4 linked regions of the Homo sapiens genome follow. The protein of the gene in region 3 interacts with the protein of the main gene of each other region in a biochemical or structural test. Each region holds a gene or a part of one and is shown on either strand. Other genes may lie near its edges.

Region 1 (7,762 bases), on a different chromosome or scaffold from region 3:
TCATACTCCTGTGCCTGCCTGGCCTCAGGCTCTGTCCTCAGGCTGGTGGATGCGGTCCTGGGGGCTGAGATCCGGAATGGCATGGCCATCATTAGGTAGGACTCTACAGCATTTGACTTTTTACATTGTTTTAAAGTCCTTCCTTCAAGTGTAAAATGTATTGATATGGGTAATATATTCATGTGATTCAAGAATCCAAAGGTAAAAAAGAGAATATAATTAAAAATCTGTCTCCCATCCTTGTCACCCAGACACCTGCCTCCTCTCATGGGAGGTAGTCATTGGAACCACTGACTCATGTGTCCTCCCACAAAGTCTTATTCAAGAAATAAATACCATATTTCATTGATTCTAAGGTGTACATTTTTTCATATTTGTAACATCTTGAAATCCAGATGCATCTTACAAACAGTGACATCTCAGAATTCCATTGGCAGTATTTTCTGCTTCGTTTTTGGCATGTAAAATCATGGTACATCTTATCATCATTGGCATCCCAGAACTGATGAAATGCAAAAGCTTTCTCCTCCCTCCCCTGTTTTTAACCACAAATGGTAGTAACATGACATACTCCCTTCGTACCATCTTTTCACTTACACATCTTGGAAACCTTTCTCTAACAGTATGTATCTTGGAGCCCGGTAGAACACCATTGTGTAAATGCACTCTATGTTAATCAGTCCCCGACTAATGGGCATTTTGGTTCTCCCCAGTCATTTGCTGTTTTAAAAAAATGCTACAGCAAATATGCTAGTACCTTTATAAAAATAAAATTTTATTTTACACTAACATAAAATAAAAATGTTACTTCACCCTTTTTAAAACACAGGTTGTGGGCTAAGTTCCTGCAGCAGAATGACTGGGTATGAGAATGAATGCGTTGATCATTTTATTTTTATTTTTATTTATTTATTTATTTTGAGACGGAGTCTCGCTCTGTCACCAGGCTGGAGTGCAGTGATGCAATCTTGGCTCACTGCAACCTCTGCCTCCCAGGTTCAAGTGATTCTCCTGCCTCAGCCTCCCAAGTAGCTGGGACTACAGTCGCCCGCCACCACACCCAGCTAATTTTTTGTATTTTTAGTAGAGACGGGGTTTCACCGTGTTGGCCAGGATGGTCTTGATCTCTTGACCTCGTGGTCCACCCACCTCGGCCTCCCAAAGTGCTGGGATTACAGGCCTGAGCCACCGCACCCGGCCTTTATCATTTTAGTGAACATTTTCAAATCTCCTTTGGAGACAGAGGGGTAGATTGGCAGGGGGTGAGAGTTTGAGGGCCTCCATTACTCAGTTCCCGGCAGATTTTTAGGCATCAGCATTAAAGGAATTGGTGGTCCAGGATTAGAGAGCAGGGGACAGTCTGTCTCTGCAGAGGAGGACCCCTCACATACTCCAAGCTGTTATTTCCTTGTCTTGCCCAGGCCTCCTGGACATCACGCCCAGCACAGTCTTATGGATGGCTATTGCATGTTCAACCACGTGGCTGTGGCAGCCCGCTATGCTCAACAGAAACACCGCATCCGGAGGTCAGCAACAGAGGGCAGATGTGATGGGGGTGGCATGGGGTGGGGTGTCCTGGTCTGGGCTCTTCCCCCAGATTCACCTTGATCTCCTTGCACAGAGTCCCCTCTCTCTGCTGCTCCTAGGGTCCTTATCGTAGATTGGGATGTGCACCACGGTCAAGGAACACAGTTCACCTTCGACCAGGACCCCAGGTATACCCCGACTCCCACCTAGGTGCTAGACTCCCAGCCACCTCCCACCCTTACAGGCCCAGCCAGAAGGGGTCCAGAAGGAGGAAAAGGCATTCACATTCATGGGGCCTATCCTGGGATCAGGATCTGTGCTACTTTTGTGTGTCTGCCATCTCTCCTAATTTCACTCTGAGGCAGGGACTGTTGGGTTCCCTATTTTACAGATAGGGGGACTGAGGCTTATACGTTAAGAGGTCACACAGAGAAGAACTGGGAGAGACGGGATTTGACCCACAAATATTTGAAGATCTTATTCACTGATTAACCGTTGGGTTAGAGTGAACCTCAAATTACTGCTTTATTTTTTCTGATTAGGATAATGCTTCAAAGTGTTTGTTTATCCTTTCAGTAGATAGTAAAAAACAAATATAAATAAATAAATAACAAACTATTTGTTTAAAGAAATTAAATAATACAGAAGTGTCTGAAGCAGTGAGTCTCCTCTAATTTCCATTACCTCAAAAATAAGTGTTGACAGTTTAGGTTATATCCTTACAGATTTTCTCTATAGATGTCTGAATTTTTATTATTATTGTTATAATTATTAATAACACACTGCCTAATGGAATAATTCTCCACATGTTCTTCGACAACTTGCTTTATTCATTTAACAGCATATCTGGGACATTTCTCCATGTTAGTACCTCTTAAAGTATCTCGTTCTTTGTAGTATTCAATTTTATGACTGTACCTCTGGTTATTTAACCCCAGGACTTTTAAGATGCCTGCCAGTTTTTGCTATTACAGGCACTTCTACTGTGAATAGTCTAGTAAATATGTAATTCTGCACTTCTCTGAGTCTATCTGTAGGATGAATTTCTAACAGTGGGTTGCTTGGGCCAGAGAGTCAGCATACTTTAAAGTCTGGTATACACTGCCAGACTTCCCTCCAGGAGGGGACCAGCTTACCCTTCCTGCAGAAAGTGATTGAGCAAGTCCTTGTCAGTAGGAGACATTACTAAGTACATGTCGAGTATCCCTTATATGAAGTGCTTGGAACCAGAAGTATTTCACATTTCAGATTTTTTCAGATTTTGAAATATTTATATTATACTTAGTGGTTGAGCATCCTTAATCTGAAAACCCAAAATCCGAAATACCCCAATGAGCATTTCCTTTGAGCATCATGTTGGCCTTCAAAAAGTTTAGGATTTTAGGGCCGGGTGAAGTAGCTCACTCCTGTAATCCCAGTACTTTGGGAGGCCGAGGCGGATCACCTGAGGTCAGGAGTTCAAGATCAGCTTGGCCAACATGGTGAAACCCCGTCTCTACAAAAATACAGAAAAATTAGCCAGGCGTGGTGGCACACACCTGTATTTCCAGCTACTCAGGAGGCTGAGGCAGGAGAATCACTTGAACCCAGGAGGCAGAGGTTGCAGTGAGCTGAGATCGCACCACTGCACTCCAGCCTGGGTGATAGACTGAGACCCCATCTAAAAAAAAAAAAAAAGTTTAGGATTTTACAGCATTTCAGATTTCAGATTTCTAGATTAGGGATGCTCAACCTGTAGTAGTTTTATCTAGCCTTCTTCCTAGCTGACTACAGAGAATCCACTTATCCAAGATCTGAAGAATCCAATTTAGGTTGGTTGTTCTCTAGACATTGCTTTATTATTTTGCAGCATTCAGTGTTCCTGACAGGTGTCTGCTTTTCATTCCTTTCCAAGTAATCTACTTTCCTCTCTGCAAGGTTATCTTGGTGTTCTTTTTTTTTTTTTTTTAAATTATTAGACAGGGTATCACTCTGTCACCCAGGCTGGAGTATAGTAGCATGATCATAGCCCACTGTAACCTCAAACTCCTGGGCTCAAGCAATCCTCCTGCCTCAGCCTCCCAAGTAGCTAGGACTGCAGGCATGTGCCACCACACCCAGCTAATTTTTTAAATTATTTGTAGAGACAGGGTCTCACTATATTGCCCAGACTGGTCTCGAACTCCTGACCTCAAGTGTCCTCCCACTGCAGCCTCTCAAAGCACTGAGATTACAGGCATGAGCCACTGTACCTAGCCTTGATGTTCTAAACTTTTACCCTGGCCTTTTCACTCTGTTTAATAGTAGGTAGACATTTTACATCTGAAGATTCATGCTTTTCTTAAACTCTTGGAAATTATTTTCTATTAGATCTTTGATAATTTCTTCTTTGTTTTCTCTGTTCTCTTTCTAGGACTTCTGTTAGTCAGATGTTAGACTTCCTGGGTTGATCCTCTATGTCTCTCTCTTTTTTATTATTTATTTATTTATTTATTTATTTATTTTTTTTGAGACAAGGTCTTGCTCTGTTGCCCAGACTGGAGTACAGTGGCACAAATACGACTCACTGCAGCCTCGACCTCCCGGGCTCAAGCAATCCTCATGCCTCAGCCTCCTGAGTAGCTGGGACCACAGGTGCACACCAGCATACCCAGCTAATTTTTTAATCTTTTGTAGAGATGGGGTCTCACCATGTTGCCCAGGCTTCTTATTTTTTATCTTATGTTTTCTGTCTCTTTTTTCTTTTGCTGTGACCTGGGAGATTTTGTCAACTTTATCTTCAAGCCCTTCTGTTGAATTATGTATTTAGATATCCTGTTAAACTCCAAAAGCTCTTTCTTCCTCTCTGTTTCTATGTCCTCTCATACCTGATCTTGTTTTTATAGAGTATGGATTAGAAGTGCCGGCTGGGTGCGGTGGCTCATGCCTGTAATCCCAGCACTTTGGGAGGCCGAGGTGAGTGGATCACTTGAGGCCAGGAGTTCGAGACCAGTCTGGCCAACATGGTGAAACCCCATCTCTACTAAAAATACAAAAATTACCCAGACGTGATGGTGCGCACCTGTAATCCCAGCTACTCAGGAGGCTGAGGCAGGAGAATCGCTTGAACCCAGGAGGCGGAGGTTGCAGTGAGACAAGATCATGCCACTGCACTCCAGCCTGGGCGATAGAGGGAGACCCTGTCTCAAAAAAGGAAGTGCCTTAAGTTTCTTCTGTTGTCTGAGTTATGTCTCTTTATTCTGAGGCTGGTTGAATTATTTTTTTCTTGGTCCTTCTCTTTTATGCTGATGGTTTTCCTCAAATGTCTAGCAATCCTTATTTGGCTATTTATACCCAAGAATGAAGGCCCATTGTAGGGGGCTGTCAGAGGACTACTCTGCTGCAGTGTTTGTAGGTCTGTTTTCCTGAAAGGCATTTCCCCAGAATGGGGACAGGGAATGTCCACTGACAGGTTGCAACTTTAGCGAGTGTGGGCAAGGACCCGGGCATTAGATGGGATCCTGCCAGATGTCAGAACAAAGGAGGCCTCTTCTTTGGGGTAACATCTCTTTTTTCCCTCAGCCTTTCCAAAGTGTATCTGTTGTACTTATCTTTTCCAGTGTAGCTTTGGGCTTTGTTGGTCATCTCTACTGTTTTATTATGGTGGGTTTTTAATACTTCATTAATTTTTCTGGTTTTATCTTTATTAATGTTTTCCTCCGACGTTCTTTATTTTGTTCATTTCTGGCTTCTGGAATTTAATGCTTCAACATTTATCAACTCATTGGCCGATCTCATTTCATCTATACCTGTACCCACTGCCCTCTTCCTGTTTTCCTTCAAAGCTAATCCCAGATACCATATAATTTCTCCTGTAAATATTTCAGAATGCATCTCTAAAACATAAGTACACTTTTTTAGAAAAGCATTACCTTAGTATCAATACCTGAAAATTAACAATAATTATTTTTTTAATCTGCCAAGGGTCTGTCATTCAAAGAATTCTTTAATATCATTAATCATTCTTTTTGTTTGAATAAATGCATAGGAGGCTATAGCTGTGTGTTCTTTCATGGGTACACTATTGATTACACACACAGATGTGAAACACTGTGAATATATTCAGTGCATTCTTCCTTATTAACAAACGTGTGTAAACAAACAAACAAAAAGAACATGTCCATGCCCTTGGATCTCCCAGCTCCCCATCTCTCAGTCTCTGAACTCCAGCAGCAGGGAGACAAACTGGATAATCCTTAAAATACTGTTGTGAAGACAAGGAAAGCAGATGATCTAAAACTAAGTAGTTAAAAGAAACAAGTAACTTTGTTGTATTGGTGATTCAGTGAGTTGGCTCTTCAGAAGGGATTTTGTGTGCATTGACCTGGATCTGTACTGGATTTCTCCAGAAAGGAAACTTCAGCTTATCTTGGGTGCCCCCTTATCCTGCTCAGCATGAGACAGAGCACCCTGGGGCCCCTGGAATCTCAAAGTCTACTTTCTAGAAATTCATTGAAGTCTCTTATTCTCTGACATCCTTTCCACTCTCTCTTTCTGGGTTGCTGTTTGTTTACAATTTCTTTACTGTATTTTGAATGGGGTAGTAGGAGGTTGAGGAAGTAAACCTGTGCTATCAATCCACCATTTAACTTGAAGGTGGTTGAACTTATTTTGAATTTCCCTTCTGTTTTCTTTTTAAACTTAGCTTGAGTGCTAGTTCTGCTGTTTATTGACTTTGATGGCTCTCTTTTAGAGTCAGCTTTCTTCAGATCTTTTCTTTCTTCCTGTCTTCCCCAATGATATTTTTTTCTTTTCCTTTCTTTTTTTTTGAGACAGAGTCATGCTCTGTCGCCCAGGCTGGAGTGCAGTGGCCCGATCTCGGCTCACTGCAACCTCCGCCTCCTGGGTTCAAGCAATTCTCCTACCTCCACCTCCCAAGTAGCTAGGATTACAGGCACGCGCCACCACGCCCAGCAAATTTTTTGTATTTTTAGTAGAGACAGGGTTTCGCCATGTTGGCCATGCTGGTCTCGAACTTCTGGCCTCTAGTGATCCGCCCACCTTGGCCTCCCAAAGTGCTGGGATTACAGGTGTGAACCACTGCGCCCAGCCCTCTGGTGATAATTTTTATGTCCTACTGTGTTTCTCTTCCTCTAATGATTAACTTACTAAAAGTTTAGAACCAAGATTTATCTATCAATGTCAAAAATAAAACAATCATCCTCCACCTACTCAACACCAGAGCTTTTGCTTGTTTTTATTCCCCAATTCCAAGCTCTTTTCCCTCAATTTTAAGAATCTTTCTATATCACTTGCATTAAATTTCACAACTACATTATCAACCCATTAAAATGTGACTCTTAAGTTTGTCTAGATTCAATGCATACCACTATTTCTTGCATTTCCCTAAAAAAGCTGCCTTAGATCCTCTCTGGAACAAAGCAGGGGGTAAATGACCAGATAGAAGGATGGATGGATGATAGATTATTCATTTTGCTTTCCCCAGTCAGAATTAAGCCCTCCCATGGCCCCTTGCTGGGCTTTCTGTCAAAACACGTGCATCGCATCTTTTCAGTATCTGTTTTGCGTGTCGGTCATACTCACCCCTCTGAGTGCTCATTCTCTCGCCTATAAAATAGAAGAAGTAGTAGAGGTGGCCTGTAAGGCATTGGGGAGGAGGAACTGCCCTTTCACTGGCCTCATGACAGCCCCAGCCAGCACCCCCGCTCTAGTTCCACCCACAGAAGCAAGTCTCACCCCTACCCCCCAGGTCTCTCCACTTCCTGCTAGAGAATCACCCAGCTCCCCAGCCTGGCTTGAGGCTCTTTTCAGCCTTAGCTGGCTCCCCGCAGCTAAGAGCCCCATGCTCCATTTGGGCCTCCAGTGTCACAGGGTTTGACCTGCTGTTACTACTACCTTTGTCATAGGGGCAGGTAGTGGGCGGACATGATCTAGAGTACCCCACAGAGTCAGGAGCCCCCATGATCTGAGATAGACCCTAGAGCTGAGCCTGAAATTGGGTGGGCACTGAGGGGGCAGCGATGTTTGCTGAGGGAGAGGTTCTGGTGAGAGACTAAATGAATGAGCGAGTGAGGTAATGGATAAATAAAGATAAGAATGAAAAAATGGTAAGATGATTAAATTGGTGACTGAATGTAAGGGTAAATTAATGGAAGAATGGATTCATGGATTAAATAATTAATGGGGAAATTAATGAATGAGAGAATGAACGAGTGGTTGAATGGGGAAATGAGTGGTAGAGGAAACTGGCAACTGT
Region 2 (8,495 bases), on a different chromosome or scaffold from region 3:
TGCATGGGGCAGAACTGGCTCATCACCTTTACCTCCCCAGGACACAGGTCAAGAGACGATCGGTAACTGCATGGTGAATGAATGAACTCTCACCTGTCTGGAAAGTGGGCTCTGGCAGGCCTCACACATACAGAGGAGAGGCAACAAAGCAGCTGCTGAACCGCAAGCTGAGCCCACAAGCTCTCTGTTGCCTTAGGCAATAAGATGAGAAATTACGGAAGCCAATTATCTATTTGTTGTCATGGCAATTGCTAGGAGCAGGGTGGGAGGCACATGACACCAGAAAACAAAAAATACAACAGACAGTGTAGACTGGGGCTACAGCTGCACATCAGAGTATCTGATTTTGTGTGTAGAGAATGGGGAAGGACCTACATCCCTACATTGATCTTTTGGGTCACAGCTGGTTCCAAGAATATATAGCAGCAGGTTTCATAGCGTTAATCTCTTAATAAAATGAGAAGTTTTTATAACATCAAATTTCATCTTAAAATTATCTTTATGCAGAATATTTAATAACACAAGTTAGTAATATAAGTGAGAAAGTAATCTATAGAGCCATATATAGTATGATCTCAACTAAATAAATATAAACATTAAAAAGAAAACCTTGCTAATACACACTGTATCCTGTATCAAAATATGCCATATACCCCATAAATAGATATACCTACTACATACTCAAAAAAATTAAAAATTAAAAAAAGAAAAAGAGAAACACTAAAGAAATCAGACAAAAATGATAACAATAGTTTTCATGGGGGATGATGGGATTTTAATTTTTTTCTTCATATATTTTCATACTTTGCAGATGTCTATAATAAGCATCGATATTTCTATAGCCAGAAAAATATTTTTAATTATATGTTTCATTTTAGTGTTGGAAAGAGCTTTTTGAGACAAAACAATCTATTCCCATCACTTTTTTTTTTTTTTTTTTTTTTTTGAGACAGAGTCTCACTCTGTCCCCCAGGCTAGAGTGCAGTGGCGTGATCTCAGCTCACTGCAACCTCTGCCTCCCGGGTTCAAGCGATTCTCCTGCCTCAGCCATCCAAGTAGCTGGGACTACAGGCATGTGCCACCATGCCCAGCTAATTTTTTGTACTTTTAGAGAGATGGGGTTTTGCCATGTTGGCCGGGCTGGTCTGGAACTCCTGGGCTCAAAGTGATCCTCCCAAAGTACTGGGGTTGCTTTGGGAGGTAATGAGCTTTGGGAGAAGCTACCGCACCCGGCCCCCATCACTTCTAATACCTTGTTCACAACTGTTTATAGGTTGTTCCAGTTTGAGAAACAACTATGCTAAGAACGGTGGCCACTTGCTGCTTTAGTTTTCTGGGTTCATCATGCCTTCTACTTCAGAAAAGATCCTGCATTACTTCAGTAATACTTTTTTTTTTTTTTAACTATGAGACACAGTGCCCTGCCGCTGACTCATTTAACCCACGACTATGTGGCTTCTGTGAAAACGGAGGACATACATTGTTTTCTAGGCTACTCCAAGCTACTTTGGTGATTCACAGATCATTATTAATTTACATTTAAAAAATTAAAATACAGATCTGATCACACTGGAGACAATACCACAAGCTTACGCCACAGTCAGGTTTGCTGTTATTTCCCAAAACACCCTTGCTGATTCATATTGCTTTGCCTTTTTGATGATTAAATGCAAGGCTCTCTATTAGGCAGACTGCAGCTTGAAAGAAGCCTAAGAGTCAGACACCCAGGAAACATAACAGACACCCAGGAAACATGGAGTGAAAATGTGATACTCTATTTGGCTGCTGAAAATTGGTATCCCTTTCCATATCTGAAAATCCCCTAGCTTATGAACATTAGACCTCATCTAGACTGCAACAAGGTAAGAGCAGGTGACAAAACTGCCCATTAGAACTTCCAGCTCAGCTTTTAAGTAAGAACCAGTGACAAGAAGAAGCCACAATGACGCAGTATTCACTCTGGCAAGGGGGCAGCCGCTATATCTGGGTTTGGAGAAAGCTACATCTGGGGTCAAAGGCAGCTACATCCGGGGTCAGGGGCAGCTATATCGAGGGTCAGAGGGAGCTGCATCCAGGGTCAGAGGGAGCTACATCTGGGGTCAGAGACAGCAGTGGCATTGGTAGAGTAGCAGAGACACAGTACCATCTGTGTCCAGTGGTGACAACAGATGCCTCTTCATGGGAACCGTCCTACAGTATGCTTGTGTATCTGTGGCTACCTATTCTCCAAGCCTGGTTCTTCATCCTGCTAGAGATTCTGAGAACTCTGCACTATCATTTAGCAAATTCCTTTTCTGCTTAAAGAGTTGGCTTCTGTTGCTTGTAACTACAAACCCTGACCAATTCAACATCTTTAAAAAAAAAAAAAATGGGGGTCAGGCGCAGTGGCTAACACCTGTAATCCCAGCATTTTGGGAGGCGAAGGTGGGCAGATCACTTGAGGTTGGGAGTTGAAGACCAGCCTGACCAACGTGGAGAAACCCCATCTCTACTAAAAATACAAAATTAGCCGGGCATGGTGGCACATGACTGTAATCCCAGCTACTCAGGAGGCTGAGGCAGGAGAATCACTTGAACCCAGGAGGCGGAGGTTGCAATGAGCCGAGATCGGGCCATTGCACTCCAGCCTGGGCAACAAGCAAAATTCAGTCTCAAAGAAAAAAAAAAGGGTGGGGGAGCAGTAAAGAAGAGTCAAAGAAATGCTTCAGGAAAATGGGATAAGGAATTCTAACTGAGGTAGCCAAAGACAGTTTATGAAGAAGATATGATTTCAGTTGCCACTTCAGGTAGAAATGGCAGTTTACAAAAGCAGAGAGGCAGGAAAAGACAAGACCCATCTTCTCTCAGCACGCAGTCAGGGAGTAGTTAAAGAAAGGTACAGCCAGGGTCAGATTTTAGAGTGACATACGAAAGAAGTGTTTAGGAACAACAGTCCAGTGGGGGTGAAATAAGCCAGAGGTCAGGAGGTCATCTGGGTGACTGACTGCTGCCATAAGCCTGGCGTGAAACGATAAGGACACATTCCAGGTCAGTGGCAATGGCCCTGGAAGAGCAGAGAAGTCCAAGAGATGTTTCAAAGGAAACTGTCTACATAAGGCCACTAAATACATGACAAAGCTGGGGAGAAAACAGGTTTTTTGTTTTTTGTTTTTTGTTTTTCTTGAGATGGAGTTTCACTTTTGTTGCCCAGGCTGGAGTGCAATGGCGTGATCTCGGCTTACTGCAATCTCCGCCTCCCGGGTTCAAGCGATTCTCCTGCCTCAGCCTCCTGAATAGCTGGGATTACAGGTGCCTGCCACCACGCCTGGCTAATTTTTTTGTATTTTTCGTAGAGATGGGGTTTTACCAAGTTGGCCAGGCTGGTCTCGAACTCCTGACCTCAGGTGATCCACCCACCTCGGCCTCCCAAAGTACTGGGATTACAGGTGTGAGCCACCGCGCCTGGCCTGGGAGACAGGTTTCAGGAGGAAGATGACGAGTTTAGTTTGTAATACTTGGTGTGAAGCGTTGGCAGAGCATCTGAGAGCAAATCTGCTAAGACTTGGAGACTCAGAACCACACGCTAGGTGAATGGCCAGAGCACACATTTAAAAGTCAGGGTAAAGATCATTTGTAAAGATATCAAAGTAGATAAAGAAATCGAAAAGCAGGACAGGTCAGGCAGCAAAGGCTCGGTGGTTTCTAAAATTAGGAGGTATGCAGAAAAGAATTAACATTGGCAGGCCTGACTGCTGTCCTGGAAAGGCCTCCTTACGAGGCAGGCCCCTGGCTGGTGTCTGGGAACTTGGGATTTGGGAAGGGCACCCACCAACCTAACTGGTAACGGGGATTTCCTGTACCTGAACTGTTCATGCAAATAATATGGTTATGCTAAACACCTGCTTTCCTTCTGGGGGACCAGAATTTTTTGATATGTGTGAGGGTGCTTATGTGACCAGCCTCCAGTAAAAACCCTAGGCACTGAGGCTCTGATGAGCTTCCCTGGCAGTCCACATTTCACAAGTGTTGTCACAACTCCTTGCTGGAGGATGTAAGCACATCCTATGTGACTCCACTGGGAGGCGACCTTGGAACTTGCACTGGATTTCCCCTGGAATTCACCCCAGGTGCCTTTCCGTTTGCAATTTTGCTCTATATCCTTTCACCGCAATAAATCATAGGCACAAGTACAACTCTATGCTGGTGAGTCATCAAAACTGGGTGTGACCTTGGGGACCTCAACATGGGGTGAGAAGAGAAAGGAGAGAGAAGAATCAGTCAGGCCAGGGCAATAATATCAAGGGAGTCAATGGATTTATAAATTTCAGTAAGAGGAAAACTGTCAATATCTTTAACATTGAAGAAGCTAAGAAGGATCCAAGCAAATAAAGATAATAAAATGGGGCCGGGCGCGGTGGCTCACACCTGTAATCCCAGCACTTTGGGAGGCTGAGATGGGTGGATCACAAGGTCAGGAGATCGAGACCATCCTGGCTAACATGGTGAAACCCCGTCTCTACTAAAAATACAAAAAAATTAGCCAGGCGTGGGTGGCGGGCGCCTGTAGTCCCAGCTACTCCGGAGGCTGAGGCAGGAGAATGGTGTGAACCCGGGAGGCGGAGCTTGCAGTAAGCCAAGATCATGCCACTGCACTCCAGCCTGGGCGACAGAGCAAGACTCTGTCTCAAAAATAAATGAATAAATAAATAAAATAAATAAGTAAAGAAAATGGATCATACCCTCTGACCTAGTGATTCCACTTTTACAGATTTATCCTACAGAAATACGTAGCACAGGCACACCAAGATGCACACACAAGGATGTACACTATAGCACCGGATATAATCGCAAAAAGACACAGCCCTTCACAAGGGACTGCTTACATAAGTTTTACTGCTAATTATGCAGCTGTTAAAATAAATGAGGAAGTTCTAAATAAAATGACATTTCCAAAATAGGTCAAATAGAAAAAGCAGGGTAGAAAACAGTTTATACGGTAAAATGCATGCACGTAAAGAGACAGGATATATAAAAGGTGATATACACAACACACACACTTTTGGATATTCATAAGTATCTCAGGAAGGATATATTTCTAAAAACCAGTAAAAAGTGATTGCCCTTGGGGAGTAAAACTAAGTACCAGGGTAGAAGGAAAATGCATGTTTCACTGAAACTCTTAAATACTGTTTGAATTTTAAAAAAATGATTTGCACATATTATCTTTAAATTTTTTTAAAAGGAAAAGCCACTGGTTTGGACATAAATGTAGTTTAAAATTTTGAAGACAGACTATCTTCCAACTATTGGGTGCTAGGAAACAAGGGAGGAGGCAAAAGTTAAACAGCAGAAGGATCCTGCTGCAGAAAACTGCAAGAGGAAAGCTGGTTTGGGAAGGAAGATGCAAGTTTGGTTTTGAACTCCTAGTCTTGAAGGGCTGGCTGAGCAACTGAGAGTTGGGGGTTCACATTAGGTGAAAGGTTGGAACTGGATACATATGGAAAAAAAAATCTATGAGTGATCGGTAAAGACATAAAAGAAAGAGACATTAAAGACAAAATTTCACTAGTAAAACCAAAAAAGAAAAGAGAGTGAAAAATCAGAGGGCAGAGCCTTAGTGAGGAAATCCACTCTCAGTCAGGAAGGCAGGCAGCAAAAAGAGAAGAAAAACAGCACAAAGGCTAGAAGGTATCTCACAGGTTACAAAAGAAAGACTTGACTGTGTTGTGTTTTAAGACTAAATTGTAAGGTAAAAAAGGAGTACTTAGAATACTAAGCAGAAAAGGATAAACATGGAAGCAAGGTTCCTAAGAAAACTGGGTACCAGGTAGGATTTATGTTGACAAGCAACTTATTAACTTGGAGTAACAACCAATTCTGTTTCATTTCTAAATGATTTCTTAACCAGCTAGCATTTAATCATATCTTAAGAACTCTATAAACAATAGCAAAATTAAATATATAGGTAGATAATGAACTGCCAAACAAGAAATTTCACTGGCAGCATTCCTGGTATGAAGTAAAGATACTGTCTTCCAAATTATTCATTCAAATTCAATAGAAAGAAAAGTAAGTGGCCAGCCACGGTGGTTCACGCCTATAATCCTAGCACTTTGGGAGGCCGAGGCGGGCGGATTGCCTGAGCTCAGGAGTTCGAGACCAGGCTGGCCAACATGGTGAAACCCCGTCTCTACTAAAATACAAAAGAACAATTAGCGGGGCGTGGCGGTGTGCGCCTGTAGTCCCAGCTACTCGGGAGGCTGAGGCAGGAGAATTGCTAGAACCCAGGAGGCAAAGGTGGCAGTGAGCCGAGATTGCACCACTGCACTCCAGCATGGGCAATAGAGCAAGCCTCCATCTCTTAAAAAAAAAAAAAAAAAGAGAAGAAAGAAAAAAAAAAAAAAACAGAAAAGGAAGCCTAACTTTTTTTTTCTTTTTTTTTTTTTGAGATGAAGTATCACTCTGTCGCCCAGGATGCAGTGCAGTTGTGCAATCTTGGCTCATTACAACCTCCACCTCCCGGGTTCAAGTGATTCTCCTGCCTCAACCTCCCATGTAGCTGGGATTACAGGCCACCGCCACCATGCCCGGCTAATTTTTGTATTTTTAGTAGAGACGGGGTTTCACTGTGTTAGTCAGGCTGGTCTCGAACTCCTGACCTCAAGTGATCCTCTCGCCTCGGCTTCCCAAAGTGCTGGGATTACAGGCATGAGCCGCAGCACCCGGACTCTGACTTTTTATTTTTATTTTTGAACATGGTTCTTGCTCTGTCACCCAGAATGAAGCACAGTGTCAAACTCACAGCTCACTGCAGCCTCAACCTCCTGGGCTCAAGCAATCCTCCCACCTCACTCTTCCTCATAGCTGGGACTACAGACATGCGCCACAATCCCCAGTTAATTTTTGTATTTTTATAGAGAGACAAGGTCTCACTATGTTGCTCAAGCTGGTCTTGAACTCCTGGGCTCAAGTGATCCACTAGCCTTGGCCTCCCACAGTGCTGGAATTACAGGCATGAGCCTCTGGACCCAGCCTTAGAGCCTGACTTTTTTAAGTCTTGGAATTCTATCAGTTGAACTAGTCAAAGAAATATACTAAATAGGGAAAAAAATACATAGGCCAGTTGCAATATTTACTTCATCTTTTCCAAGAAAACTTAATGTGGACAGTTGGTCTAACACCAATGTGGACCAAAATATTAGAAATAGGCCAGGCATGGTGGCTCATGCCTGTAATCCCAACACTTTGGGAGGCCGAGGCGGGAGGAGTGCTTGACCAGACTGAGAAACATGGCAAAACTCTGTCTTTACCAAAAAAAATACAAAAATTAGCCAGGCATGGTGGTGCATGCCTGTAGTCCCAGCTATTTACAAGGCTGAGCCCAGGAGGTGGAGGTTGCAGTGGGGTAAGACTGCACCACTCCACTCCAGCCTGGATGACAGAGCGAGCCTCTGTCTTAAAAAAAAAAAAAAAAAAAAAAATTGGAAACATTAATGAAATAAAAATTAAAAAGTGGCGGTGTGTTTATAATGCCTAATAAAGAATACAACAGACAATAAATATATTTACTTATTGAACCTATCAGTAACAAAACAACCATGATTCAAGAAAACAGGTTTTGTGTGTGGGGGGGTTTTTTTTTTTTTGAGATGGAGTCTCGCTCTGTCACCCAGGCTGGAGTGCAGTGGCACCATCTCGGCTCACTGCAACCTCCGCCTCCCAGGTTCAAGTGATTCTCTTGCCTCAGCCTCCCGAGTAGCTGGGATTACAGGAGGCTGCCATCACGCCTGGCTAATTTTTGTATTTTTAAGTAGAGACGGAGTTTCGCCATCTTGGCCAGGCTGGTCTTGAACTCCTGACCTCGTGATCCACCTGCCTCGGCCTCCCAAAGTGCTGGGATTACAGGTGTGAGCCACCATGCCCAGCTGAAAACCGTTTTCCTAAGTCTAGCTTATAAAATATACTAATTGATTATCTTTAAATAACTAAGTTGGCCAGGCATGGTGCCTCACGCCTGTAATCCCAGCACTTTTGGAGGTCAAGGTGGGCACATCACCTGAGGTCAGGAGTTTGAGACTAGGCTGGCCAACACTGTGAAACCCCATATCTACTAAAAACACAAAAATTAGCCGGGCATGGTAGCACGTGCCTGCAGTCCCAGCTACTCAGGAGGCTGAGGCACTAGAATTGCTTGAACCCGGGAGGCAGAAATTGCAGTAAGCCGAGATTGCATCATTTCACTCCAGCCTGGGTGACCAGAGGGAAACTATATCTCAAAAAATTAAAAAAAAAAAATTAATTGAATAAATAAAATAAGTTATTTACAGCCTTTTTTTTTGGAACATTGAAAGGGCAACTAGCTACAAATGAGAGAAATTCAGTGCAATACAGGCCCTTTATACTATAAATATTTTACAGCAGTGAAACGTAAAGAGAGCGCAAAATGTTTTTGCCATTCAGTTCAGTCTACCTCTAACCTTTCCGACTCTTTTGTGAGAACTGATAATAAAACAGAG
Region 3 (3,916 bases):
TTTTCTTGGTGTTAAGTGAAAACTTGCATATTGTTTATCAAGAGTTGAATGTATTGAGGTATTAAATGCTTTGAGGGAATATGAAGTGGACAGAGACCTATTTAATTAGAGATCGGGCATAAATTGATATAAATACCAATATGTGAGTTAAGTAGCAATAAAGAATTTCATTACGTTAGTAAGTGCATCATTATACCTTTGGGTTTTTTCCCCCTTGTGATTAGAACAGAAATGTGTTTGATAGCAATAGAAATCCATATTTACTTGTTACCATGTGATACTGAATGTTAATATTCAGTGCCTGAAGGGTGTTTTCAAGTGTTTCTTAAGGTGTGATGAACTAATCAGGTTACTCACTTGGGTTGCTGGTTGAAAATGAAGATTCATGGTCCCACTGCAAACCTACCGAATTAGACTTTCAGGAGGCAAAACATCTGCAGTTTTGTTTGTTTTTGTTCTATTGAGACAGAGTCTTGCTCTGTTACCCAGGCTGGAGTGCAGTGGCGCGATCTTGGCTGACTGCAACCTCCGCTTCCTGGATTCAAGCAATCCCCCTGCCTCAGCCTCCTGAGTAGCTGGGACTACAGGCGCACGCCACCATGCCCGGCTAAGTTTTGTGTTTTTGTAGAGATGGGGTTTCGCCATATTGGCCAGGCTGGTCTGGAACTCCTAATCTCAGGTGATCTGCCCACCTTGGCCTCGCAAAGTGCTGGGATTACAGGTGTGTGCCCAGCCCCCTCTGCAGTTTTAACAGCATTTCTGGTTGATTTATGTGGAATTTTAAGAATTGTATTCTGAATCATAACTATTTTCTCCCCCAAATTCCTTATGTGCTTGAAAGAGTTTTTGTGTGTTTGTGTTAAAAGCCACATATCATAAAATTTGCCATCTTAACCTTTTTTTCATCTTAACCATTTTTAAGTGTAAAGTACAGTAGTGTTAACTGTATAGATGTGGTTCTATGACAGATATCTAGGACTTTTCACCTTACAACTTTTATTGAAGATAACTTTATATACCTTATAAACAGACTATACCCATTGAATGGCAACTTTCTTTCCCGCCCCCCCCGCCCCAGCCTATTTTGAGAGTTTTTCTGATGTTGTATGCTAAATGAATTGTAATAGTTGTGGGATTCCAGCCATAAAGTGGTTTGGTTCATTTTGATGTCCTGATTCATTTGCTTATCAGAATTTGCCAAACAAATGGATTCCAGTTAAGTTATTGAGTGGCATTTTAAAAATTACTTTTTAAAAACTCAGATAGATATACAATTCTTAGATTTTTGTTTTGGATAGAAGGAGCTAACTCTGTGTTCTGGTTTCTGATTAATAAATGATGGAGGAATTTTTTGTGAAATAAATGGTGGCAGAATGATATTTCTCAAATTTTCCTGTCAAAGTAATGACATGGAAGAACATTTAGAGGAGCCTGTTGCTGAACCAGAGCCTGATCCTGAACCAGAACCAGAACAAGAACCTGTATCTGAAATCCAAGAGGAAAAGCCTGAGCCAGTATTAGAAGAAACTGCCCCTGAGGATGCTCAGAAGAGTTCTTCTCCAGCACCTGCAGACATAGCTCAGACAGTACAGGAAGACTTGAGGGTATGAAACGTGTCTTCATTTTTATTCTATTCCTAGTTATTTTTTTTAAAAAAAGTTTCTGTTCTTTTGTATTGCTGTTTGGTTGACTTGTAGATACATTTTCATATTGGTGGTTCATTTCAGGGAAATTTCTTAGATATTGAGCCATATGTTTGATAAGAGAGAGGTAAGATGTGTATTAGTTTATTTCATCAAAAGAAACCACTCCCTTCCCCGAGGTAACTTGAATGCCTGTTAGACCAGAAATTTTAGGTGCCACTGTAGCACCCTATCAGTGATTCCTTTTCTATTTAATATTTAATCTTTTACACTATAAATTATTACATACTTGTTACTACAAGTGCATAACATCTTTTCAAGAAAAATAACATGGCAGAATATACTTTTTCTATGAAATTTTATTGAAGATAACTTTATAGTGGAAGTAGAAATGAACTGCTGAAGTAAAACTTCTTTTCTAGTTGGCATACCTGATTTCAGAAGTTTTCAGTTTGTCCTTCTGAGTCTCGTCAGGGTGATTGTTAACTGAACTATCGTTGAAACCTTTGCATTTGGTGCTCTGGAAAGGAATATAATTTTTAGTGCTGTGTTTATAGGCTCAGGGTTATGTCATTTGTTTGTTCAATAATTCAAATTCCTGCTGTGTGTTAGGCATTGTTCAAAGTGTAGGTTTTATATTGGCAAAACAGATAGGGGTTCTTGTTCTCTGGCAGCTAATAGGTGAGTAGGAAAGAGCAATGTTGAAATGACTTTAGCTTGCAAGTGGAAAAAATTAGCTGGGCATGGTGGTGCCTATGTGTGGTCCCACCTGCTTGGGAGGCTGAGGTAGGAGGATGGCTTAGCCTGGGAAGTCAAGGCTGCAGTGAGCTATGATTATGCCACTGCATTCCAGCCTGGGTAATAGAGTAAGACCTTGTCACAAGAACAAAACCATAAGAAGCAAGTGGAAAAGTAGGTTGGCTGGACCAGCTGACCACTTAGTTGGTTATTATAGTAACCCTAGTGAGAGAGAATGATGGCTTGAATTAGAGTTGTGGCAGTGGAAATGGAAAAGAAATAATTAGGTAGAATAACAGGTTCTGGCGATTTTTAAATGTGCGAGAAAGGTGTTTATGATGATTCTACAATTGATGTAATTGAGTCGATGTTTGTACAATGGATTGGATGGAATCACAGTAGGAAGAGCTGAGCTGATTTTGGAGGAGAGGGAATTTTGTTTGATTCACAGATTTGAATGAAAGTAGCTTTTGTTGGGCCAGGCGTTGTGGCTTACGCATTTAATCCCAGCACTTTGGGAGGCTGAGGCCAGGAGGATTGCTTGAGTTTAGGAGTTCAAGACCAGCCTGGTCAATATAGTGAGACTTCATCTCTACTAAAAAGAAAAAATAGCTGGACATGGTGGCACATGCCTGTAGTTTCAGCTGCTTGGGAAACAGGTGGGAGGATCACTTGAGCACAGGAGATGTAGGCTGCAATGAGCTGTGTGCATGCCACTGCATTCCAGCCTGGGCAACAGAGCAAGATTCTGTCTCAAAAAAAAAAGTGAGTAGTTTCTTGAACCTAAGCCTCTCGGATTTGCTTGGTACTTGATCATCAGTCCCAAGGAATTTCAGTACTAAATTTTGAATAGCTGAAAGAGAAGAATCTTAATATATATATATAAACTCCATCCTGCCTATGAGAATGTGTTACCGTTTGTTCTGTACAGGAAATCAAGAGTTAGTAGCTTTTATATTGTTTTGATACCTGGTATAATTATGTAATGTTGGTATTGCTCCCTTAGACATTTTCTTGGGCATCTGTGACCAGTAAGAATCTTCCACCCAGTGGAGCTGTTCCAGTTACTGGGATACCACCTCATGTTGTTAAAGTACCAGCTTCACAGGTAAGGTCCTAATAAAACTTGTACATTAGGCAAATTTACTTCTATTGTGGTAATTTGATTCAACAGAGGTTTAGAGAATGTGAAAACTGGTCAGGTGCAGTGTGGCTCATGCCTGTAATCCCAGCACTTTAGGAGGCTGAAGCCAGCTGATCACTGGAGCCTAGGAGTTTGAAACCAGTCTGGGCAACATAGTGAGACCCTGTCTCTACAAAAAATAAGAAATTAGCTGGGCCTTGTGGCATGCATCTGTAGTCCTAGCTACTTAGGAAGCTGAGGTGGGAGGATTGCTTGAGTCCCGGAGGTTGAGGCTGCAGTGAGTCATGATTGTGCCACTGCACTGCATCATGGGCGACATACTGAGACTCTGGCTCAAAAAAAAAAAACCAACCCAAATCAATGTAGAAACAGAACTGACATATAGGACGGA
Region 4 (7,691 bases), on a different chromosome or scaffold from region 3:
AGAACCAGACGCAGACTCACCATACCACGCAGCAGACATTCCTGAACCCGGCGCTGCCTCCTGGCTACAGTTACACCAGCCTGCCATACTATACAGGGGTCCCGGGCCTCCCCAGCACCTTCCAGTATGGGCCTGCTGTGTTCCCTGTGAGTACCTGGCTTTGGTCACTCCTTGTGGTGAAGGATCCTAGCCCTGGACACTATCCTAGCTGCTTTTAAGGGTCAATGACTTTAATAATGGATGAGGAGGAACAGTTTCCACCTCTGGCCTGTTTTTGGCCTGATGCAGGGTGGTGGGGGAATGGGGCTGGAATTGGTGGAATTAGGATAGGGATTGCCTAGTCTTAGAATTTGCCAAAGGGAGAATATGATACCATACAGCTTTGCTTCACTCAGATTCATTCATTCCCTGCTGCCATTGTCCCTTTTTCTTCCTCCAAACTACCATTTCTTGACTTCATTAGTAGATTCTAGAACAGTTAGTAAGGAGCTAATTTCACTAAGCAAACTGTAGTCAACTTGCATCAGGATAGGTAGCCATCTGAATGGCCAGTACCTGGAGCAGGACAAGTGGGACAGATGGTATTCTGCTGCCAAGTCACTGCAAATCTGGCCTTTTTGCTCTTTAGGTGGCTCCTACCTCTTCCAAGCAGCATGGTGTGAATGTCAGTGTGAATGCATCGGCCACCCCTTTCCAACAGCCGAGTGGATATGGGTCTCATGGATACAACACTGGTAAGCTGACCTTGTCTCTGGCTCGGTGTTATCTGTGGGGTGTTATTGGATAAATTTCAGGGAGGAAGACTTGGTGCTTGAGAAAATGGGATTGGTGAGGGTGTGCCGCTGCCCCAGGTATGATTGTTAATGCTTGGCTGACTTGGGTATCTGTGGGAGCAGCACCAACAGAGGAGCTTGATACTAGGACATGTGTCCACTATTTGTGACGGGAATGCCCAAGAGTATGTGTTGGTTTTTAGAATATGTTGGTTGGCCAAAAGTGTGGGTGGAAGTAGGGCAAGGAGCCCCAAGATTTTGCTGAAATGTCAGTGGAGGCAAGTGTTAATAGTATGTATGGCACTGATAGTACAAAAGGGGGGTGTATTCACTGAGTAGAAGGATTAAATGGGTTCATAGCTAGCAGCCTACGATAGGTTTGGCTTAAATCACTTTGTAGCACTACTTTTCTTATGTGTCCTTTTTTATTCCCTAGCTAGAAGACCTAAACTGTGGAGAAAAAGGAGTAGGCGTGACCATACTTAATAGAGTGGGAATTGGACTGGGAGAGTTGGGCCTTTAGGTTCCTTCATTTGTATGGCTGGTCTCTTTGCAAGTCTTTTTGCATATGTGATGGCAGGGAGGGAATTGTAGGAATCCTCTGGATGGGTACTTACCTAAAAGATACTCAGCCTCTCCCTTGCTTCCATACCTGACATCTGTGCTCTACTTTTGGAGGACAGGGAGTGAGAAGGAATCTTTGAATAATATAATTGTACCTTTTCAGCGACTTGTAGATGAATAGGGGAGGAGTAGGTTTCTCTGATTGCTTAGGGTTGGGGATGGGGGTTGTCCTTCAAAGCTGTCAGCTCAGTTACAGTTTCATGGTGATTTGGATAGAGCAGCATGTGTTTTTCACCCTTATGTGGGCTCTGGGTGGGTCAGTTGCCCACAGTTTTCAATAATTGGGAAGAGCACAGAAGGCAGTAAGGGCTAGGAACTGATAGCCAAGTGGAGCTTTGAACTGTGCTGCATGAGTTAGAGTGGGTCATGAGTTAAATTAAACAAATCCTGAGAAGCCCCATTGAGATTTAATACATAGACTCCTTGTGGCCACCCCTGTCATTGAGCAAGGTTCACCCTAAATCTTGGTGGGGAGGATTATAAGCCTTTTGACTTGGAGTGGTGGCCCCTTTCTGAGGACATTAGGTTGAAGTCTTAGTTGGACCAGGTTCACGAATTTTAAGAGGTAGGTGATGGATAATATAAGAGAATTGGCATACCTGATTCTAGAAATCCCACCTTCTTGCCTCCCTTCAGAATTCAGAAACGTATTATATCAGCCCTTGAGAACCCCCAGTTCCCAACCCCACAAAGGGCTTTTGTCATTCCATTCATTTATTTTTATGTATTTGATTCCTTTTAGGAAGAAAATATCCACCCCCTTACAAGCATTTCTGGACGGCTGAGAGCTAATTTGGCCCAAGGCTGGGGGCTGTGTTTTGTGTGTGTGTATAAATTTGCACTGAAGTCTTGTTTCAGAAACCAGACCACTGAGGAGAGCCTGCTGAGCTGAGGCCATGGCCTGCGTGGCTTGGGGAAATGAGTTGGTGGATACCTTCTGGGCTTTTGAACTTGCCCCTCCCCCATTTCCCTCTCCCCCATGTGTCTGACCCTGTCTTACCCATTTCAAGTTCAAGCGGTGCAGCACCTTCGAAGCATCAATGCACACACCTGCTGTTGCTTTTGATTTCTGGAAGGCATGTAGTTTCAACTTGTAACAAAAATATTTGTAGTCTTCAATAAACTGTGGTATTTCTTTAGCTAACTCTGGCGTTCTTTCCGTGCATGTCTTTGTGGACACTAGGAACCAATGCTGTGCTGTGGATGAAGGGTGGAGGGTGGCCTTTTTAATCAAACCCCAGCATAGCCAAAGAACTATTAATTTTTCAGTATGGTGGTTTTATGAAGGTGGGGGGAGGGGAAACAGCCTCAGTTTCCCACCTGTTGATTAGTTGGTAAAGGAAACTATTTGTAGAAATACCTGATTCTCCATGCTTATGTTGCTTCATTTTTCCATTTAGATCTTTCCTTTGCCTCTTACATAAGCAGTGGGGGAAAGGACAAAAAAGTTTGGAGTGTCATGTCATGGTGAAAGGCAAAAGAGAGAGTTTTCAGAGCTGTTAGAGAAGTATCTTTCAAGGCTTAATTCCCACATCTATCTGGTTCCTAAAGGCCAAGTGGCTAAGATCTGATAAAGTCATTAGTGATAAGCTAGTTGATGACTCAGGCTCTGTGGCGACTGTGCTATCCTGGAACATTGTTCTTAGTCCCTTGATGGCTTTTCAGAGATCGTGGATTACCAGTTTTGCATTTGTGGGTATAAGCTAAGGATGTGCAGGAGCGGTTTGGTCAGATATCTCCTTGACTATGGAAATTCTAATTCCCTCCCAGTCCAGCTAGCATACAACATTAGCCCTTTGTTTATAAAGTTAACGTGGACAGTGAGATCACCACCCTGGGTGAATTAGAAACCAAAGTATTCAGCTTTCCTTGTATTTGTTCCCAGCCCTTTGGAGTAATTTTGCTCTGTGGAGTGTGACCACCTTTCCCAGGGGCTGCCATGGTGGGAGAGATAGATTCATGTGTCTCTGCCCTGCTGCCCACGTGATTCTGGTATTGTCACTGTTTGGGGATAAGTAGGGGGTGTTGATGTTGGAAGGAAAGCAAGAGAACTCTGTAGTCTGAAGATCTTCCTAATAACTGGTGAGGGGTAGTGAAATCAGTACCCATTATTTTCTAGGTCTCTAATACTGTAATTGAGATTATTATGGCTACTACAGAGTATTATGGTTCCTGCATTCTCAGTCCCTTCAACCTCATATCAAAGATAAGGCCTCTGGACTAGAAGCTGTTTTTAGCCTAAACTCTGGAAAGAATGAGATCAGGTAGGGGCACACTGGAGCTGAATTCCTCCCTACCACTCGGCTTGAGAATCCAGTTAGTCATTTCTTCCATCCAATATAGGCAGCCTAGCCTCACTGCAGAAGGTGACCAACTATGCTATTTTTTATTTTTTTATTTTTTTTTTGCCTTTGCAGTAAAGATAAATTCTCTCTTTTGGTTTGACTTAAAAATGTTCTACTTATATCCTGTTTATTCCACCTTTACTCTCCACCCTTCCACATGAACTTACTAGCTTAAGCCTTTTCCATAACTGAACTTCCTATTCTTAAAAGTTATGCCTGTTACTCAGTGATTTGCCAGATGGGCACCTCGGGTTTGAAAAGGGAATGGAAAAAATACCCCATTAGCCCTTTAAGATACTCCTGTATCGTTCCCTTCTTTTACTTCAGTGTCTTTAGACAGTTGATGCTTCGGAGATGAGGAAGTATTTTCTCTTGCTTGGTTTTCTGTAGTTCCGTTATTTTTCCTAGTTAGTGTTTGCCCCTCCCAGGAACTATCTGGACTTAGGATGTTGGGAAGGTTTTCCAGATTAAGATACCACTTCAAAAGTGACTGTTCAAGGTGGGCTTAACTTTGGAAGGCTGCCTTTGTCTGAGGCATTGGGAGGATTTAGGTTCTAGAGTTTGAATTGTGGGTGAATGGAGGATTCCTTATTTGTGATTTGGCCACTCTAGTACACTGCTTCTAAAACTCTTTTCCATCAGTGTTCCTGATAGCAGAGGAGAAGGAAATGTGTACCTCTGATGGGAAGGATCCAAGGGCATAGACAGGCAAAGTTTTTCTGAAGCTTTGTTTTATTTTTATAAAAACTAATATATCTTTTTAAAATCATGCTTTATATTCCTAGTTAAATTACTTACTTTTCTTCACATCTTTGTTTCAAAATGGAAAGTATAAAAGATGTTAGGTTATTTATTTCATGGCTTTTCCTATCTTCTTGACCCGATGCCTTATACCCCAGGTGATGGAATATAGTATGAGTATTTATTTGTTTGAGGAGTACAAATTAGAATGACATGTTGTACTACTCTGGTTTCTTTAAAGTTGTAGTGGTTAGTAGGGAGTTTTTTTCAACAGGAAATATGAGAGTTGGGGTATGAGAGCTTTTATCTTACGGAGAAGCTGAAGTTGTATACTGAAAATGACGTGGTTTTTGTGTTCCACCTAGGCTATAGGAGATGGCCTACTCCTGTCTACCTATCCCTCCCCACCCCGCTACACTTAGGCTTAAATTGTGTACATGGAAATTGATCTTGATACTAGACCTTTACATCTTAAGTTTGAAGATTTAGCCTAGATGCTCCAAGACTAAAGAAGCTGGACTAATTGAGCTGAGGCTCTGAGAATGAGAGTGCCCTTGGGGATTAAAGTGGACTGCTCCTCTAGTACTTATGCAGTGGAGGCATGGATTTTGAGCCCAGAAATGTCACTTCAGGAAGAGAGAGGGCCAGACTGCCCCAGTCTCCAGGAATAAAACTGAGTGGCATTTGGGTGGATTGATTTGAAATGGACATTAAAATTAAAAGTTTATTATATTCCTGCTAGACTTTGGCACAGAAGTGTTTTGAAAACAGTGTATGCTAGTGAGGTTTGGTCATATCCCCTTGCCCACCAAAAAACAACTTACCTCACTCTCTCTCACGTATACTCAACACGTACCTGGGAAGGGCCAAAGAACCCTTAGGGAGCTTTTGTTTCATGAACTCTTACCTCTCAGGACTAACTTGAAGCTGGAAAACCGACCAAAATTCCCTTGCATTGGTATAGCTAGAAAGGCTACAGATATCACCTCATCTCAGGAATAAGGGCCAGGTAGCTAGCTGAGCTAATCCTCCTGTCTGTTTCCTCCTCCCCCAGGTGTTTCAGTCACCTCCAGTAACACGGGCGTGCCAGATATCTCGGGTTCTGTGTACTCCAAAACCCAGGTAGGTGCCTGGCTCTGGATAAAAGTGGAAAAGAGATAGACATAGAGGAGGTGGAGTTGCAATGGTAGAAATAACAGTGGACAAGAAGAACCCTAGGAGAGGTGGCAGGAAACCCATCCTACTTTTTCTAAATGAAAGGTCTTCTCTAGACTTCACTTCCTCTAAGAAGTTAAAATTTAGCCCTCTGAGAAAAAAAACGAGAAACGTAATAGGAAGGTAAAGCGTGGCAAATTGTTTATCGTGTCATGTAATTTACTGTGCAACTCTCCTGGCCCCTTTTCCTACCTACTCCCAACCTTTTTCATAACTTTTCAAGAGAATAAGTATGAGAGTGACAGGAAACTAGTTCATTCCATTCTTTGAGTAAATCTATAACAGTGGGAGTGGGAAAGGAGACGACCTAGTAACTAATGAAGCATTTGAGTGATCCACAGGTTTGTTATGTTGCTTTTATCCCCCATCACCATAAATACTTAAAGTTTGCTATAAAGCACTGGGGGTCTGGGGGGGCACTTCATGCACAAGACCTTCAGCACTTCAAATATCTCAGTATGTGTTTATTTCTTTTGAAATATCCAACGAGTTTTTTTTTTTTTTTTTTTTTTGAGATGGAGTCTTGCCTTGTCACCCAGGCTAGAGTGCAGTGGTGTGATCTCGGCTCACTGCAAACTCTGCCTCCTGGGTTTAAGCGGTTCTCCTGCCTCAGCCTCCTGAGTAGCTGGGATTACAGGTGCCCACCACCGCGCCTGCTAATTTTTGTATTTTTTAGTAGAGACGGGGTTTCACCATCTTGGCTAGGCTGGTCTCGAACTCCTGACATCATGATCTGCCCACCTTGGCCTCCCAAAGTGCTAGATTACAGGCGTGAGCCACTGCACCCAGCGGAGTTACTATTTTTGTAAGGAATATTGGAAGGGGTAGGGACACTATTGGTTTGCCTTTTTTTTTTTTTTTGGAGACAGTCTCAAGAAGTCACCCAGGCTGGAGTGCAGTGGTGGAATCTCAGCCTTCTGAGTAGCTGGGGCTATAGGTGTACACCACCAGGCCTGCCTAATTTTTGTATTTTTGTTTTTTGTTTGTTTTGTATTTTGTATTTTTGTTTTTTGGTAGATACAGGGTTTTGCCATGTTGCCCAGGCTCGTCTCGAACTCCTGGGCTCAAGCAATCCACCCGCCTTAGCCTCCCAAAAGTGCTGGGATTACAGATGTGAGCCATCATGCCCAGCCTGGAGTTCTAAGTTCGGATTTCATGATGTTCACATATGACATTCAGTTTTACAAAGTGCTTCCACATTCCATCCTCTTATTTGGTCTTTTTTTTTTTTTTTTTTTTTTTTTTGAGACGGAGTTTCATTCTTGTTGCCCAGGCTGGAGTGTAATGGTGCGATCTGGGCTCACCATAACCTCCGCCTCTCGGGTTCAAGCGATTCTCCTGCCTCAGCCTCCCAAGTAGCTGGGATTACAGGCATGTGCCACCATGCCCGGGTAATTTTGTGTTTTTAGTAGAGACGGGGTTTCTTCATGTTTGTCAGGCTGGTCTCAAACTCCTGACCTCAGGTGATCCGCCTGCATTGGCCTCCCAAAATGCTGGGATTACAGGCATGGGCCACTGCGCCCAGCCTTTTTTTTTCTTTTTTTTCTTGAGATGGAGTCTCCCTCTGTCTCCCAGGCTGGAGTGCAGTGGCACAGTCTTGACTCACTGCAACCTCCACCTCCCAGGTTCAAGTGATTCTCCTGCCTCAGACTCCCAAGTAGCTGGATTACAGGCGCCCGCCACCATGCCCGGCTAATTTTTGTATTTTTAGTAGAGACGGGGTTTCACCATATTGGCCAGACTGGTCTTAAACTCCTGACCTTGTGTGATCCACCCATCTTGGCCTCCCAAAGTGCTGGGATTACAGATGTGAGCCACCATGCCCAGCCTATTTGGTCTTTACAACAGGTTTGTAGCATCCCTGTTTTATATCTGAGGAAACTGAGGCTAAGAGATTGAGTAGTATGCCCAGGTTCACACAGTTCTTAAATAAGAGCAGAGCTGAGACTGAGACCTGAATATGTGACTTCAAGTGTACTGTGCCTTCTGTGAC

What was found.
Region 1: the proteins of G3BP1 (region 3) and HDAC6 form a complex in vitro, tested with the Homo sapiens proteins (one study listed by BioGRID).
Region 2: the proteins of G3BP1 (region 3) and LGALS8 form a complex in vitro, tested with the Homo sapiens proteins (one study listed by BioGRID).
Region 4: the proteins of G3BP1 (region 3) and UBAP2L form a complex in vitro, tested with the Homo sapiens proteins (one study listed by BioGRID).

The regions. Positions count from the first base shown.
Region 1 is NC_000023.11:48,806,612-48,814,373, forward strand, and holds part of HDAC6 (protein deacetylase HDAC6), read left to right. Parts: coding exon 1-95; exon of another isoform or gene 96-349; intron 350-1,421; coding exon 1,422-1,526; intron 1,527-1,646; coding exon 1,647-1,715; intron 1,716-7,762.
Region 2 is NC_000001.11:236,527,512-236,536,006, reverse strand, and holds part of LGALS8 (galectin-8), read right to left. Parts: intron 1-8,495.
Region 3 is NC_000005.10:151,795,825-151,799,740, forward strand, and holds part of G3BP1 (ras GTPase-activating protein-binding protein 1), read left to right. Parts: intron 1-1,402; coding exon 1,403-1,604; intron 1,605-3,387; coding exon 3,388-3,489; intron 3,490-3,916. UniProt on the Homo sapiens protein: Protein involved in various processes, such as stress granule formation and innate immunity. Plays an essential role in stress granule formation.
Region 4 is NC_000001.11:154,260,964-154,268,654, forward strand, and holds part of UBAP2L (ubiquitin-associated protein 2-like), read left to right. Parts: coding exon 1-146; intron 147-628; coding exon 629-734; intron 735-2,139; coding exon of another isoform or gene 2,140-2,189; exon of another isoform or gene 2,190-2,542; intron 2,543-5,537; coding exon 5,538-5,605; intron 5,606-7,691. UniProt on the Homo sapiens protein: Recruits the ubiquitination machinery to RNA polymerase II for polyubiquitination, removal and degradation, when the transcription-coupled nucleotide excision repair (TC-NER) machinery fails to resolve DNA damage.